Homo sapiens: one gene and its partners. The protein of the gene in region 1 purifies or fractionates together with the protein of each later gene. This does not show direct contact. Each region holds a gene or a part of one and is shown in the gene's direction. Other genes may lie near its edges.

Region 1 (3,500 bases):
CTTGCATCTGGGTAATTAATTCTGCCTCTCACAGTATTTCACTCTGTGTGTATACCTGTAAAATTTATTGGGATTTATTTCTAGCTTTTTGTCCAAACTTGTCATATTAATTTTGAATTCTTGATGTTTTACTGCATAAATTAGTTGACAGGCCATGTGTGCCAACTTGCATCCAGGAATGGGATGAGCAGCATCAGAACTTCACCACCAGAGTCACTGGGTAATTAAGTAGATAGCACTGGGCCTGATCCCATCGCTACCCTGCAGTTCAGAATGCCCCTCTTATAACAGGGGCAGCATGGTAGTACTTCATCAGCTGTACTCTAACCCAGCAACGATAGAGTGGAAAATCATACTTTCCTTAATGTTTTGTTAATTTTGGGAGCCCTCCACACCACTGACTGCTGCATTTTAGAATAATATATAGAAGACATGGAAATCATGAATATGAATTACTCTCTAGAATCGGTGCAGCAATAGATTTTGGTGTATTAGAAAGAATCCTTTACCACAGTAGCCTCAATGCCAAACGTTTTCAACTCAGCCCAGAGCTGAAGGCATTAATGAATTCTAATAGCAAGGCAGCATACCCTCCAGTGGGATTCTAATTGACAAAGAGATAGAAAACTGAAACAAGAAGGCCAGCGTGTCCTTTGGGGAGCTGGCACACAGCACCGGCCACAGTGCATCAGGCTCCAGGCCAAAGAAAAGTGAGCCCAGCAGTGAGTGCTATTGCCCTGTCTAAGCTAAAAGCAGGTGTTCTTGGCTGGGCTGTCAGGGGTCTGCAAACCCCCTGCCACTGAAAGCACAATTATAGATGTATGTATGTTTTCCAGCAAGCAGGATACTCAGCTTTTATCTGATACTCAAAAATATCCCTGAAATATAGAGGGCCAAGAAGCTCTGTTTGCTCGATGAACAATTATCCAAACTTCAAAATGGATAAAATAGGTTGTTGGAAATTAATACAACAACAATACTCAAAGAAAAGAGAATTAGCATCTATCCATCGCTGATTGTGTATCAGAGATTCTTGGAGACATTTAATCCTCACAATAACCTAATTTTAAGATAGAAAGAGAAAGGATTCAAACTCAGGTCTTCCTGAAAGCCCACATACTTCCTACTCCACACTGCCTCTCTAAAGAATGAAAGCGATTAACCATTGGATATTAATAAAAAATAAAGATAAGCAATCTAAAACAATAGGGAGATAGGATTTGATATTCAAAAATTTGATTTTTTAAAACTTAGGAGCTTATTGTTGAGCAAAGTTGAGAGATTTAAACCCAACTGACATTTATTCTATAGGATGACCCAGGGTACAGCTTCAAGAAGGGGTGGTTCCTTCAGAGCAAAAGCCTTTCAAGAAACTGAAGAAGTTGTAAATGGAACAGTTGTGAGGTCCAGCCTTACTGTTCAGTTTCTCATGAATATGATCATGTGTGTATGAACAAAAAGATTTAATTCCTCTTTTGTATCTCTGTACCAGTTGATGACAGTCATTTGTACATAATATATTACATTAGGTAAATTCTTCTGTATTTTACTTTGTCTCTGAAGTATTAGTTCTTTTCTCCCAAGCTTTTAAAACAGAGCTTAGGAAATATTCCTGCCCACATAACTAAATGCTTAACTAACTCTCAATGCTGCCTTCTCTAAAACTATAAATCCCAAAGTACATATTGGTCATTGTTTTATGGAAAATATTATTTGAGAATATTCGGTGAAAATTTAGCAAAGTAAATTCATGCAAATTTCTGGAGTTTTCTGTAGTGCTTTTGCCAGTATATCTTACGTAAAGCAATGTGATCATCTGTTTGGAGAACTCTGTTTGGGGAAGCTGAGCAGGATTAATTCCCGTCCCTGTGTTGCAGTGTAAATAGCTTTTTTCCTGTCTTTTGTCATTAATGATCATGCCGTAGATGTAGCCAGTGCATTGTAAGCCGATCTGTCAAGGCAAATAAACAATTCACCTTGTTAAAATTCCCTAAATCTTGCATTAATAAACCTAAGTAACCCCCTGAACACTCAAGAGATGTCTTCCTCCATACTGCGGTGATGGATGACACGTCTAAAGATCCTGGAAATTAAGTAGTTCAGGTCATTAAAAGTGTCCCACACTTGTTATTGATTTAATTTATTTTAAGAAGGTGGGGGTGGAGATAAGAATGTTATACCCTCCCCTCTTTTTTTAAATCTGAAAGCAACCACTTGTACAGATAATTAAAACTATTGCCTGGGGTAACAAGTCTGCATGTGTTACAAATTAGGCTTTATTATTCAAATAAGTATTGTATCATCCTCTTAAACAGATATCTAGAAAAAAAAACAATCATTGAAACATGTGTCATAGCCAAAATACCTCGGAGTTTTATATGTGTGATGACGCCTAGAACTTTTTGAGTTACAGGCACTGAAATAATGACCTCTGGGCACCTAAAAAATGTCCTTGAATAGGTAAAAACTGAGATGAAAGTGAAATGATTTAAGGAAATTTAATTGAAATAGTAATGAAATTATGCCTCTGGATAAAGGAGGTTTTTTTTTTCTTTTTATTTTCTGAACTTTTTATTTTTCTATTTTTATAACCAGGAGAAAGTAAACACATACACACACATGGATGGAGAGAGGGACAGAGGGATGGACGGATGAATGCATTGGTAGATGGGAAAACGCTTAGAGAGTGATACGCTATTTCGATTCTATCTCACTATATTCTAAGGCAAGTTTAAGTTGTTGTTTAGTGTGTGTGTTTACTTGTTCATTGCTAGCTTTCTTCAGCCCATGCTCCACTGGACCTGTAAGATTTATCATCATGTCCCAGTGCCTAACATAATAGATGCCCAGGAAATTATTATTTAGTGAATAAAGTATAACACCCCAATTTTTTCTTCTATCTTTTATTCCTTAAGCTTCCATGGGAATGGTGAGCTGTGTAAAGAACCGTAGCAGCCCCCAGTGGAAGTGGCTCTTTAGATGACCCCTCTCCAGGGACTGAACACCAGGAGGGTTCTGCTCTAGTGTGGGACAGAGGGCAGCCTAGGAGGACTGGCAACCTGTATAGTTACCCACTTCATTTGTATGACCTGAACTGGGTAACAGTATTACAAAACCTGATGAGGAATTGGGGCCACTCAGTATGTGAACCATGGCTAAGAACAAGATGTGATATAGAACTATGTATCTACAAGGTACATAATTTCACCTCACTTTTGTTACTTGTTATGTATCTTATGCACCACCCTTACACAGTATTCCTGATCAGTTGTGTGAGTGATATTTCACCACTGATTCTCATAGTTCTTTAAACAACATGTACTTACTGGACAAAATTTACCCATGATAAGTTATGAAAAATGACCCTTAAGAATAGTTGTATTGAAGTCAGAGATTATGATAAAACCTTTGATGCTTTTCTCCTGTGGTCTTTTAGAAGAGGGGGAGGGGGAGGGGGAGGTGGCAAACTTATATTCAGTTCACACACTCTGGTAGACTTT
Region 2 (3,579 bases), on another chromosome or scaffold:
TGAGCTTCTGCTCATGCTGGGGCCCTTGCCTCTGGTGCCCCTTCCCTCATTCATATCTGCTTCGTGAGAAACCAGACCCTCCTCGAGATCAGCTGCACTTCTTCTTCTGTAGAGCTCCCCCAACAAATTTCCCCAGGTAGGCTTCCTCTCCCTCTGCCCCCATGGTACCTCCCAAACAATGTGGACCCACAGGTCAGAGTTGGTTGTTTGCATTTCTGCTTCTCCAGCCAACTTGTAACATCTGTGAGGGTAGAGATCACCGGTTATTCATTTTAGGGTCTGGCGCAGAGCAGCAGCTCCATAAATATTTGATGACTTCATTTGATTTTTGGAAATAGCTCAGATCAGTGGGCTTTGGGTCTAGTGAAGAGTGGATGACCAATTTGGGCTTGGCCATTTGGTCAAAGCCAATGTTTTATTAGGGAGCCCGAGGCACATTTTCTTACAGCTGGCTCTGAAGCCATGGCTCCCCTGGAATAATAAGTCCAACAGGGATCCTTAGTTGGGGAAATGCTCCTTTACATGTCTTGGGGGATTTTTAAAATGTTCGTCTGATGACTTTCACCCCTGCCCTCCTCACTCCTTTTGTATAAAGTATTTCTTTAAAGTGGATGGGGGACCCCCAGATGCCTGATTTGCAGGTATGGTGAATGGGGCATAGCAGTGCCCTGTATTTATGCCTGGTCTTCTTAGCCAGGTGTCCTGGAACTGAACACCAGGGGCCTGTTTGCAGAATATCCAGGCACACGGGCTCCTTCAACTTGAAGCACCTAAATGTGTGATGTGACCCCATTTTTGGTTGAATTTTGGTTTGCAGATGTCAAAGATTCAAGGAAAATTTATGGGAGAAAACAGAACCTTCTGTTTCTTGGCTTAGTTTTTTTCAGCACGTTTTATAAAATGCTGTCATTTTTAACACTTTGTGGCCAATTTCAGCAAGCAAGCATAGAATCCTAAGTTAAGGTAGACATCGATCCTCAGTGTTCATATTCCCACGTTTCCATATTTCTGAAATCAGGATGCCCCTTACAGTAGATTTGTTCTTCTAGTGAACTTTTTCTCCCTCTTATTTCTTCTCCAAAAGCTGTTATAAAATCGATGGTGCATCTATCAGTTGAAAGCATCTTGGGATTGAGTGTTGTTGTCCTCCTGGTGGGGAGGACTATGACCTGTGGGGGCTCCATGCTCTGTTTACCTCACTTTTCTCTGGGCTTGGCCCCCCCCCCCCCCCCCCCCGCCCTGTACAGTGAAGGCAGGACTTCACCTTGGGAAGAAACATCTGGAACTCTGACTTAGTCCTACTTTCCTGCCATGTCTGTGTGTAGGTTTTGTAATTTTGCTGTGGCCTCTCTAAAAGGGGCAAGTAGCCCGTGGGAGGGAGGTGAAGTCCTGTAAATGGGGGAGGGGGGTCTCTTCAGTACAGCCACATGCATGAGCTGGCCCGACAACAGCGGAGCACCAGTTTGACATTTCCAAGGGTAGAATGAGCAGAGCATAGTCGGAGAGCCAAGGCACGGCTCCCCTCTCTGCTCCACCAGTTAATCATTTTGTGGTGTTTGCCAAAGTACTTCATTTCCTTGCACCGTATTTTCCTTACCTGTAAAGGTGAGATGATAATATATTGATGATGATGATTGAAGATGATGATGCATAGGGTTCTTGTGAAAGTTGTGAGAGATGTAAGAAAAAAGTTTTGTAAAGGGCAAAGTTCTTTTCACTTGCAGCATGTTATTTGTGCATCATCTAGTCCAAGGATGGTAAATAAGTAGCATACATGCTGCCATTCCCCATCCTCTAGCCTGTGGCAGACATCACTAATTGACCATGGTAGTCCTTTCCATTGAGTATGGCCAGCGGCCTCAGAGTCCTTAGTATTATATAATGCTACCCATCAGTTGGGCTTAGATGGGACATGAAGCCAGTTTGTCCTTCCTTATCGACACACACACACACGCACCCCATGGGACATGAAGCCAGTTTTTCCTTCCTTATCGAGACACAAACACACAGAGAGAGAGAGAGAGAGAGAGAGAGAGAGAGAGAGAGACAGAGAAACTGAGGCCTTGGGAAGAAGGTGGAGTGACTTACCCAAGACCTCAGTGAACAAGCGGAAGTGGGACTAAAAGCCTCAGATTTCTTCACTCCTCAACCAGTGCTTTTCCTGCCCTGTGTGTATACACTGTATCAAAAGGAATTAAAATTAATTTGGTCTTGAGAAATAGCGAGAGAATCCTGACTCCTCCCTTCCCTGTTATAATTAGATACCCTTGGGGTTGTCATCAAAGCAGGGCTGGATGACCTGCTTCTCTGCCTGATCCTGGAGTGATCAGGTTTCAAAGGGGAGACGCCTGTGGCTAGGCAGCTGGATTGGATGGTGTCTCTCAGCAGTGTAAGTGACGTGGCAGTGGGGCAAGGCAGGCCCTGGGGTTCCTGGATGATGACCTGGGTTTGGGACAGGTTTGCTGCTTACACACTTTCAAGTCCACAGACAAGTTCTTTAGTCCTTCCGTATCTTAATTTCTGCATCTGAGAAATGGGCTGGTAATGATTCTTCACAGGAATGACATAAGATAACAAGTTTGAAAATGCTTTGTAAACTCTTGACATACATGTTACTTTTTAAATACACGTTACTTTTTATAACTAGTACGAATTATTAGTGCTATGCTGGGTAAGTTGTGTAAACTGAGTCACAGACTAAGGGCCACAAGATGAGTGGGTCCCTTCTCTTGTATGTTATTTTATCTTTTTGCCAGCCCAGGGTTCAGAAAGTTTGGAGTTTGTGAGTCTTTCACAGATTCTTTCCTGTTTGCATCTGTCCCCAGCCTCATCCTGTTTCAATCATGTATGTGGCCTGCCTAGCCCTGGAAGGCCTTGGGGTCTGGGACCCCGACACAGCCTCTACTTGTTCATCTGTTTAGTGGGAGGACAGGCCATCCTTAAACCCTTCCAGGCTTTTTGAAAGCATCGTATGAGTTAATGGACTAGAAAGTGCTTCATGAACAGCAAAGAACTGGAGAAACATGTTGGCGACAACTCCTTTCTTAAAAAGGAAAGGAGGAAGGCTGAGGTGAGGATGGTATTGAGTCGACAAAAAAGTGATATAAATATTTTGGCTGACAAAGCAGAATGAGGCTTTCTATATAAGCTAAAGCGAATAAATGGAGTCAGGTGATGCTTGGCCCCCCAGTCTGCTATAGAAAACACAGGGAAAAACATTGCTTTCTAGTGAAGTGAGCCCTTTGTCAGGGGTGAATCTTTGATTACCAGGGGTCAGCCCTGTTCCTGGGTGAGGACCCAGGGAGGAATGAAACCTGGTGTCTCCCCCAGGGGTGGAAATGGCTCCTGCAAAGTGGAGGAGGCCTGAGTATCTCTTGGCAAGTCCCTGGCTCGCAGTTTGCTGGTAGCACTCAAAGTCAAAAGTGCTTTTGGCTTGCTTACTGGATGTGTTACTGTCCAAGACAGCATATCTGAGGAGCTAGCCATTCTTACCTCTCAGCTTTGAGCCTGTGCCATACAAATTCCTGCCTGTCCCAACATTTTTGTGGAAAATTGGGGGACTAAGGGTGGGAATTTTTG
Region 3 (3,579 bases), on another chromosome or scaffold:
TGATGCCATTTAAAAGTTTTAGAATAAGCAAAGCTGATACATAGTGACAAAGTAGATTGGTGTTTGCCTGCGGTGGGGACTGGAGAGGGTAGACTTCACAGTTACACAAAGCAACTCTAGGGTTATGAAAATAATCTTTATCTTGAGTGGAGTTTGATTATCTGAGTATCTACTTTTGTCAAAACTGTACAGTTTAAATGGGTGTATTTTAGTATTTGTAAATCGTGCCTCAAAGTGGCTTTAAAATAAAACAGGTAGGGGGTTGAGGGTGAGTAGTGAAAAGTAAAACTAGAAAGCCACAAGAATCCTCAACTTTTAAATTGTAGTATTAATAGCTCAAGAAAAATGGGTGTATCAGGAAAACCCTAACACACCTAATTAGTAAATGAGAGACTATTGAAGAGGAAAGGCAGTTTTTAAAATTTTGTCAGACTTCTAAAGAAACAGGTAAAGGGGCATTGCACCACCGTTTATTAAAAGGATGACTTAATGGGATAACAGGCATTTAGTCAAATTTTTACACTCATATTTAGGCATGTTCAACACATTGTTTTGTTCTTTTCATGTGTGAAAATTGCAGTTCACTTAAAATGCAGTCCTAATTTTGTATGTCTGCATGTTTCTTTTTGTTTTGTTTTGTTTTTTGAGATGGAGTCTCGCTCAGTCGCCCACGCTGGAGTGCAGTGGTGCGATCTCGGCTCACTGCAAGCTCCGCCTCCCGGGTTCACGCCATTCTCCTGCCTCCCGAGTAGCTGGGACTACAGGCGCCCGCCACCACGCCCGGCTAATTTTTTGTATTTTTAGTAGAGACGGGGTTTCACCATGTTAGCCAGGATGGTCTTGAACTCCTGACCTCATGATCCGCCTGCCTCGGCCTCCCAAAGTGCTGGGATTACAGGCGTGGGCCACCGCGCCCGGCTGTGCGTCTGCACATTGCAAATTCACTTATTTGTTCTTGATTTTCCCAGAATTGTTTTATTCTGTAAGGGACAGGGTCTCACTCTGTCACCTAGGCTGAAGTGCAGTGGCATGATCATAGCCTGCTGTAATCTCTAACTCCTGGGCTCAAGCAATCCTTCTGCCCTAGCCTCCCAAGTAGCTGGGACTCTAGGTACAAGCCACAACACCTGGCTAAGGTTTTGGGGTTTTTTTTACTTTGTTTTGGTTTTTTGGGAGATGGGGGTCTCACTATTTTGCCCAGGCGGGGTCTTGAATTCTTAGCCTCAAGTGATCCTCCAGCCTTGGTCTGCTAAAGTGCTGGGATTATAGGTGTGAGCCACTATGCCCAGCCAGAAATAATTTTTCAAAAGAGATGTGTACTCCTTCCTCATGCTTTGCAGAACTTAACAGAGGGTGGTTTAGGGTACCCAGAGGACAGTCCAGCACCAGTAGTACCAAGATCAGAAGCAGTTCTCCATGCAGAATTGAGACCTAGATGATCATCTGCAATGAAGCAGTGGGATTTGTGCTTCCTTCAAATGTAAAATTTAATTTTTGGTATTTTGCATCTTTTTTGAAGTTAAATTTCAAATATTCAGAATATGTAGTCACAGTAGTTCAAGAGAGATTCTCACCTCATTGAAAGCTTACATGGATATGTGTCACCTGAATTAGTCGTGTGAACTCAACAAAGTGAGCGGGAAAGTTGCCCGACATATGACAGTTGCCAGTGCTGGGAAACGGGGATGGATTTAAAGCAGGAAGAAGACAAGGTGGCAGAAGGGGGAGGTTGCAGAGTGAGGGTGTGCATGTGAGCCCACCAGACCACAGGCCCTGTCCTGCTCACACGTTTCTGCAGCTCGGGAAGCACAAGGGTTGTTGACACTATGGGATAGATATGTTCAGTTTTCTGAAAATGTGGTGAGTTTAGTGACTAGCAGAACTGATAATTGAAAACCTGCTTTGCATTCTATTTGTCAAAAATAAAAACCAACCTCTAAAGTACATTCCTCACATTTGTGAACAGTTATGTTTCTAATTATATGATGTTCAAGTTCTGTAGTCTCATAGACCTGGATTCAAATCTTGGCCCTGCTCTGGATAGTACTCTGACCTTGGGCAAATTAGAGTTTCTTTGAGTACCCTCAAAGATCATACTGCAAACATAGTAGTACTGTAGGTACTAAACACAGAATGATGTTTGTGAGGTACTTAGCCCAGTACCAGGCCTTATGTAAACACTTAACCGATTGAATGGTGTCATATGAATAAGGTCATGACAAGGTTTTTCTTTTTATTTAAAGGTGAATCAGGTCTAGGAAAATCGACTCTCATAAACAGCCTATTCCTAACTGATCTGTACCCAGAAAGAGTCATACCTGGAGCAGCAGGTAAAAACATTCTTATGTTACTGTAAGTGTAATTCTACATGAAAGATGCTGAAGACTGCCTAATTAATATTTTATGTCTTAGCTGTGTGTTTTGTTTGTTCTTGTTCAGCTTTGAACACAAGGAAAACACTTTTATGGGGTAGGTGTGCTGCACCGAGGTCCTTGGATTTGGGTTGTAGACTTTCTTTGACACGTATCCATGGATCCATCCTCTCTTGAGTTTGTCTGTAAAATGTAATAAGTAGTTTCTGCCTATATTAAATATTTGATGGAAGGATTAAGTGAGAATGTTTTACATCAAAAATGCTGTGTAACTAGAAGATTACTAGGATAGATGTTCGAATTCATCTACTGTCAGAAAGTTCCAGCACAGGACACCAGCATCCACAAATGACTGTTGAATGAAATAGGCACACATAGTGAGAGCCTAAGACTTGGGCTGCTGCAAGAATATGTAGCCCTTTCAGAATATTTTTGAATTCAGTTTTTAAATGAATTCGTAAATTGCTTTCTTTTTCCCAGGAACAGAAATTATAATTTTTAACATTTGTGTTTTTAACCTTCCCCAGTAGCACAATAATCTTAGCTTTAACCTTCCCCTTTCTGACTTCTCTGGGATCTTTTTTTCTTAATCCCCATGGTATCTTTGGAGAACCTACCTCTGTAGAGAGGCAGTAGACTCTGAAGTCACCTGTCGTAAGAACGTGAGCTTTCCTCTTCACATGCTGCTTATATTCCCTATTAAGTTTGTTTCTTTTCTAGAAAAAATTGAAAGAACTGTCCAGATTGAGGCTTCAACTGTTGAAATTGAAGAGCGAGGGGTCAAGCTACGCCTGACAGTGGTAGATACCCCTGGCTATGGTGACGCTATCAACTGCAGAGATTGGTATGCTCCCCCATGCCCAGGGATCTGCATTTGTTTACTTAATATACTTCATAAATTTATAGATAGTGTTAATGAGTGATTATTAAGTTTGGGATTGCTGTATATAATAAAACACCTAGACAATTTAAAGCGTGTTAAATGTTGACTTTTTAAATAAGGAATTTTATAGAGAGTAATTTTTTTCTGGTACTCTACTGTAATTTGAGATCGCAAAGCCAGTCATCCATAGACTGCTAGTATAAATGAAACACCTGGATTTGAGCCGTGGTTGGTGACCGAGATACTGTAGTACATCCTTTCTATGTGGAAGGAAGTGAAACCTGTTAGAGAGTGGGTTGAGTCGTAGTGTCTGTAAATGACTGC
Region 4 (3,579 bases), on another chromosome or scaffold:
GAGGGAAAGCGGGGCTGGCAGCAGCTTTGGGGTTGGAGGGGCTATTTCACCAGCCTTTTTCCACCTCCCTGGCAGCAAAGTGGAGGGGGTGCACACACCCCGGCAGAAGAGGAGCACGCCCCTGAAGGAGCGGCAGCTCTCCAAGCCCCTAAGTGAGAGGACCAACAGTTCCGACAGCGAGCGCTCCCCAGATCTGGGCCACAGCACGCAGGTACTTCTGGGTGCCCCCAAAACACCAGGACCCTCTGAGATTCCCTGAACTTCAGGCTCTGTTTTGTTGGCTTCCTTGGACAGTTAGTTGGAGAGAAGAGGAATACTTGGAAATGCTCTGAACAAAAACTCTTGAAGAAAGACTAAATTAGAGAGGTCTCCTATATTCCTTGCTTACTGCCAGTGTGGAACTGGCTTCCACGCTGACCTCTAGGGCGCAGGCAGGGGAGCCAAAAACGCTGTGTGGTCGTGGCCTGCCACGGCTGCGAGTGTCGATTCCACACCACCGGTGTCTCTGCCTCCATCAGACGTCAGTCTGGAGATTGTGCCGTGAATCCACTGTTGCAGAGGACAGCAGCCTCTGGATCTCATGGGACATCCTGACCCGAGCTCCCAACCTGAGTATTGCTGTGGGCGGTCATCGTGCTTTCAAGCCGGGAAGCCAACAATATTAAACTGTTTCAATGGAAGGACCCGAGAGTGGGCTGGAGAAGAAGTCAGAAGAACTGGGCCTCAGGAATCGTGTTCTCCTTTTGAAGGCCTGTGGTGTCAGAGATCTGGGACAGGGATTTTCCCGGCACACCTTACACAGTTCCAGTTCTGCTAGGGTTAAACAGCCAGCCTGTTCATTCCCCTGATAACTTACCAAGTGCATTGTCAGTGTGGCCTCCTGAGCTCCATGCTATTACATGGCTGAAAATGAACTTGAGACTAGAATAGCCCAGTGCCTGGGGTGAGGTATTGTCCTTCTTGTTAATCACTGTTCCTGAAATACCTTTTGTTCCCTCAGACAGCAGGTACCCACACAGCACTCATTGCCACTCTCATTATTTCTCTCCCCACTGCCCTCGTTTCTGTTTCTCTGAGCACCTGCTGGCCGCCCTCTGCCTCTCCCTTCCTGGTTCTTACGCTGCTGCCCCTCCTGCCACCCACACCGTTTCCCATCCGCGAGGCTTGCTGCACCTCCATCCTCTCCACCTGCCCTGGCAGGACAACCGCTGTGGCTTTGTTCCTCATCTCCATGTGTCCTCTAAGGACTCGCTTTGCTGCTTCTTTCTCCTCCTTTCCATCGTGGTCTGGCCAGTGGGAGACTGAGTCTCCCTCCCAAAGTCCTGATATCTGTTCTCTCTAACACCCCTGCTCCAGAGACTCCCCATGCACCAGTCCAGCAGCCCTGTCCTCAGGCTCCCCAGGGACTCCCTAACAAGAGACACTTTCTTTTGTTCCTGCAGATTCCAAGAAAGGTGGTGTATGACCAGCTCAATCAGATCCTGGTGTCAGATGCAGCCCTCCCAGAAAATGTCATTCTGGTGAACACCACTGACTGGCAGGGCCAGGTAAGTGCTGAAACTGCGAGGCCATGTGGGGTCCTGGAGGGCAGGCAATGCCCGGTTGCATTGTCAGTGTGGCCTCCATACTATTGCGTGGGGAGGTGGGGAACTCACCCCTCCATCAGCCCCCACCTGCTCTGAACTGAGCCCAGAACTCTGAGTTCTAGTCCAACTTCTGTCATTATCCAACTTGTGGGATCTTAAATCACTAAGTTTGCTCTACCTCAGCTTCCTCATACGTTAAAAAACAAACAAACAAAAAGCAACAGTAATTCCTCCAGGGCGCCACATGCGTCAGGCAGCATAGTGGAACGGAGGCCTGTAGAGAAGCACCCGGCTGTAACCTCCAGGGCTGCCCCATGAAGGCAGGTCAGCAAGGCAGAGCATCCCTGCCTGCTCCCTCACCGCTGTCCACCTGGCTTAGACACTGGTGCCGGGGACACCTGGAGTGTCCTAGCATGTGAAACCCCCTAAGGCTTCCCATCTCTCACACTCTGCGTGTCTCGTGGGTCGGCCCCACCCCCTCCTTACTGGCAGTCCGGAGACCTGGCTGCCTTTGCCCAGCTTCGGTCTGAACTGCAGAGGACAGGGGCCCTGCAGCTCGGTCTGGGTCTCACTTGCCTCTTGGCCCTTGTGAAGGAGTGATGTGTTCTCACCTGTGTCCCTGCTCTCCTCCCTCCCTATCCCAGTATGTGGCTGAGCTGCTCCAGGACCAGCGGAAGCCTGTGGTGTGCACCTGCTCCACCGTGGAGGTCCAGGCCGTGCTGTCCGCCCTGCTCACCCGGATCCAGCGCTAGTAAGGGCTCTGGCCTCCCTTCTCCTGCCCTTAGAGATTCCCTCTGACCTCATCTTCCAACCCTGACTTCTAAGCAATGATAGACCCTCCTGGCCTCATCAGACCAAGAATTTGCAGAGGGGCGTATGTTTAGGGGGGTGGCGGCAGCAGGCTGTAGGGCTTGAGGCCCCGGCAGACCCCAGAGGATCGGGGGTGGAAATATCAATTCCTGTGCTCCCTGCCTCCCTGCCTGGACCCCCGCCATGCCTTGACTTGCTTTATCCTCTTAAACCCATGATGAAGGAGAGGACACACTGGTTTTAAAAAGATCTTTTATTCCTTCCATCTGCAACATGCTGCTAGACACTCAGGAGTCAGTGCTTCCCCTACCCTCAGGGCCTTCTTAAAAGGCCCAAGTCCCTTGCCCTTGTGAAAGAGAACTATGGATTCCAGGCCTGGGGGCACACACCCTGCGGGCATCCCAGGCACACTGCCGAGTCCTACGTTAGCCTCAGCTGTTCCGTCTGCTTCATGGGCAATGCCCTCTGACCCTGGATTTTTCTCTTGGTTGTGAAAGCACTGTGGCTTATTCCCTGTATGATCCTCTCTGTTTTATTTTGTGGATTGGTTTGCTTTTCCCCTGTGGGTTGTTGAGATCACAGAAAGTCAGCTCTGGGCCTCCCCCGGGCAGGATCCTGGCACCCCTGAGCACTGCTATGACGCTCCCCTTCCTCCCCAGCTGCAACTGCAACTCTTCCATGCCGAGGCCAGTGAAGGTGGCTGCTGTGGGAGGCCAGAGCTACCTGAGCTCCATCCTCAGGTTCTTTGTCAAGTCCCTGGCCAACAAGACCTCCGACTGGCTTGGCTACATGCGCTTCCTCATCATCCCCCTCGGTAAAGACGGGAGGCACCAGGAGGGCGTCGGGCATGAGGGTTCCATAGACAGATGCCTCATCTGGAACAGGACGGTGGGGTTGGGGCCTAGGAAGGGACAGTCAAGGAGACCAAGGCCGTGGCCAGGGACAGCTGCTCCCACACTGTCTCATCTCCTGACGAATTCACCACCTCTGGTTTTCCATCTACCAGGTTCTCACCCTGTGGCCAAATACTTGGGGTCAGTCGACAGTAAATACAGTAGTTCCTTCCTGGATTCTGGTTGGAGAGATCTGTTCAGTCGCTCGGAGCCACCAGTGTCAGGTAATGGCCCCGTGTAAGGAGCTTACTCCCACCCCCGGGGTCCACAGGTGCCAGCCTGGCTGCAGA

What was found.
Region 2: the proteins of SNX24 (region 1) and ZNF618 purify together in Homo sapiens (affinity purification with mass spectrometry; one large-scale study listed by BioGRID and IntAct). This does not show direct contact.
Region 3: the proteins of SNX24 (region 1) and SEPTIN2 fractionate together in Homo sapiens (co-fractionation; one large-scale study listed by BioGRID). This does not show direct contact.
Region 4: the proteins of SNX24 (region 1) and PACS1 purify together in Homo sapiens (affinity purification with mass spectrometry; 2 studies listed by BioGRID and IntAct, with this or other methods). This does not show direct contact.

What each region holds. Positions count from the first base shown.
Region 1 is NC_000005.10:122,995,613-122,999,112, forward strand, and holds part of SNX24 (sorting nexin-24), read left to right. Parts: intron 1-2,595; exon of another isoform or gene 2,596-2,725; intron 2,726-3,500. UniProt on the Homo sapiens protein: May be involved in several stages of intracellular trafficking.
Region 2 is NC_000009.12:113,882,767-113,886,345, forward strand, and holds part of ZNF618 (zinc finger protein 618), read left to right. Parts: intron 1-3,579. UniProt on the Homo sapiens protein: Regulates UHRF2 function as a specific 5-hydroxymethylcytosine (5hmC) reader by regulating its chromatin localization.
Region 3 is NC_000002.12:241,332,883-241,336,461, forward strand, and holds part of SEPTIN2 (septin-2), read left to right. Parts: intron 1-2,243; coding exon 2,244-2,330; intron 2,331-2,439; coding exon of another isoform or gene 2,440-2,469; intron 2,470-3,076; exon of another isoform or gene 3,077-3,092; coding exon 3,093-3,216; intron 3,217-3,579.
Region 4 is NC_000011.10:66,230,730-66,234,308, forward strand, and holds part of PACS1 (phosphofurin acidic cluster sorting protein 1), read left to right. Parts: intron 1-75; coding exon 76-211; intron 212-1,442; coding exon 1,443-1,547; intron 1,548-2,230; coding exon 2,231-2,337; intron 2,338-3,055; coding exon 3,056-3,210; intron 3,211-3,402; coding exon 3,403-3,513; intron 3,514-3,579. UniProt on the Homo sapiens protein: Coat protein that is involved in the localization of trans-Golgi network (TGN) membrane proteins that contain acidic cluster sorting motifs.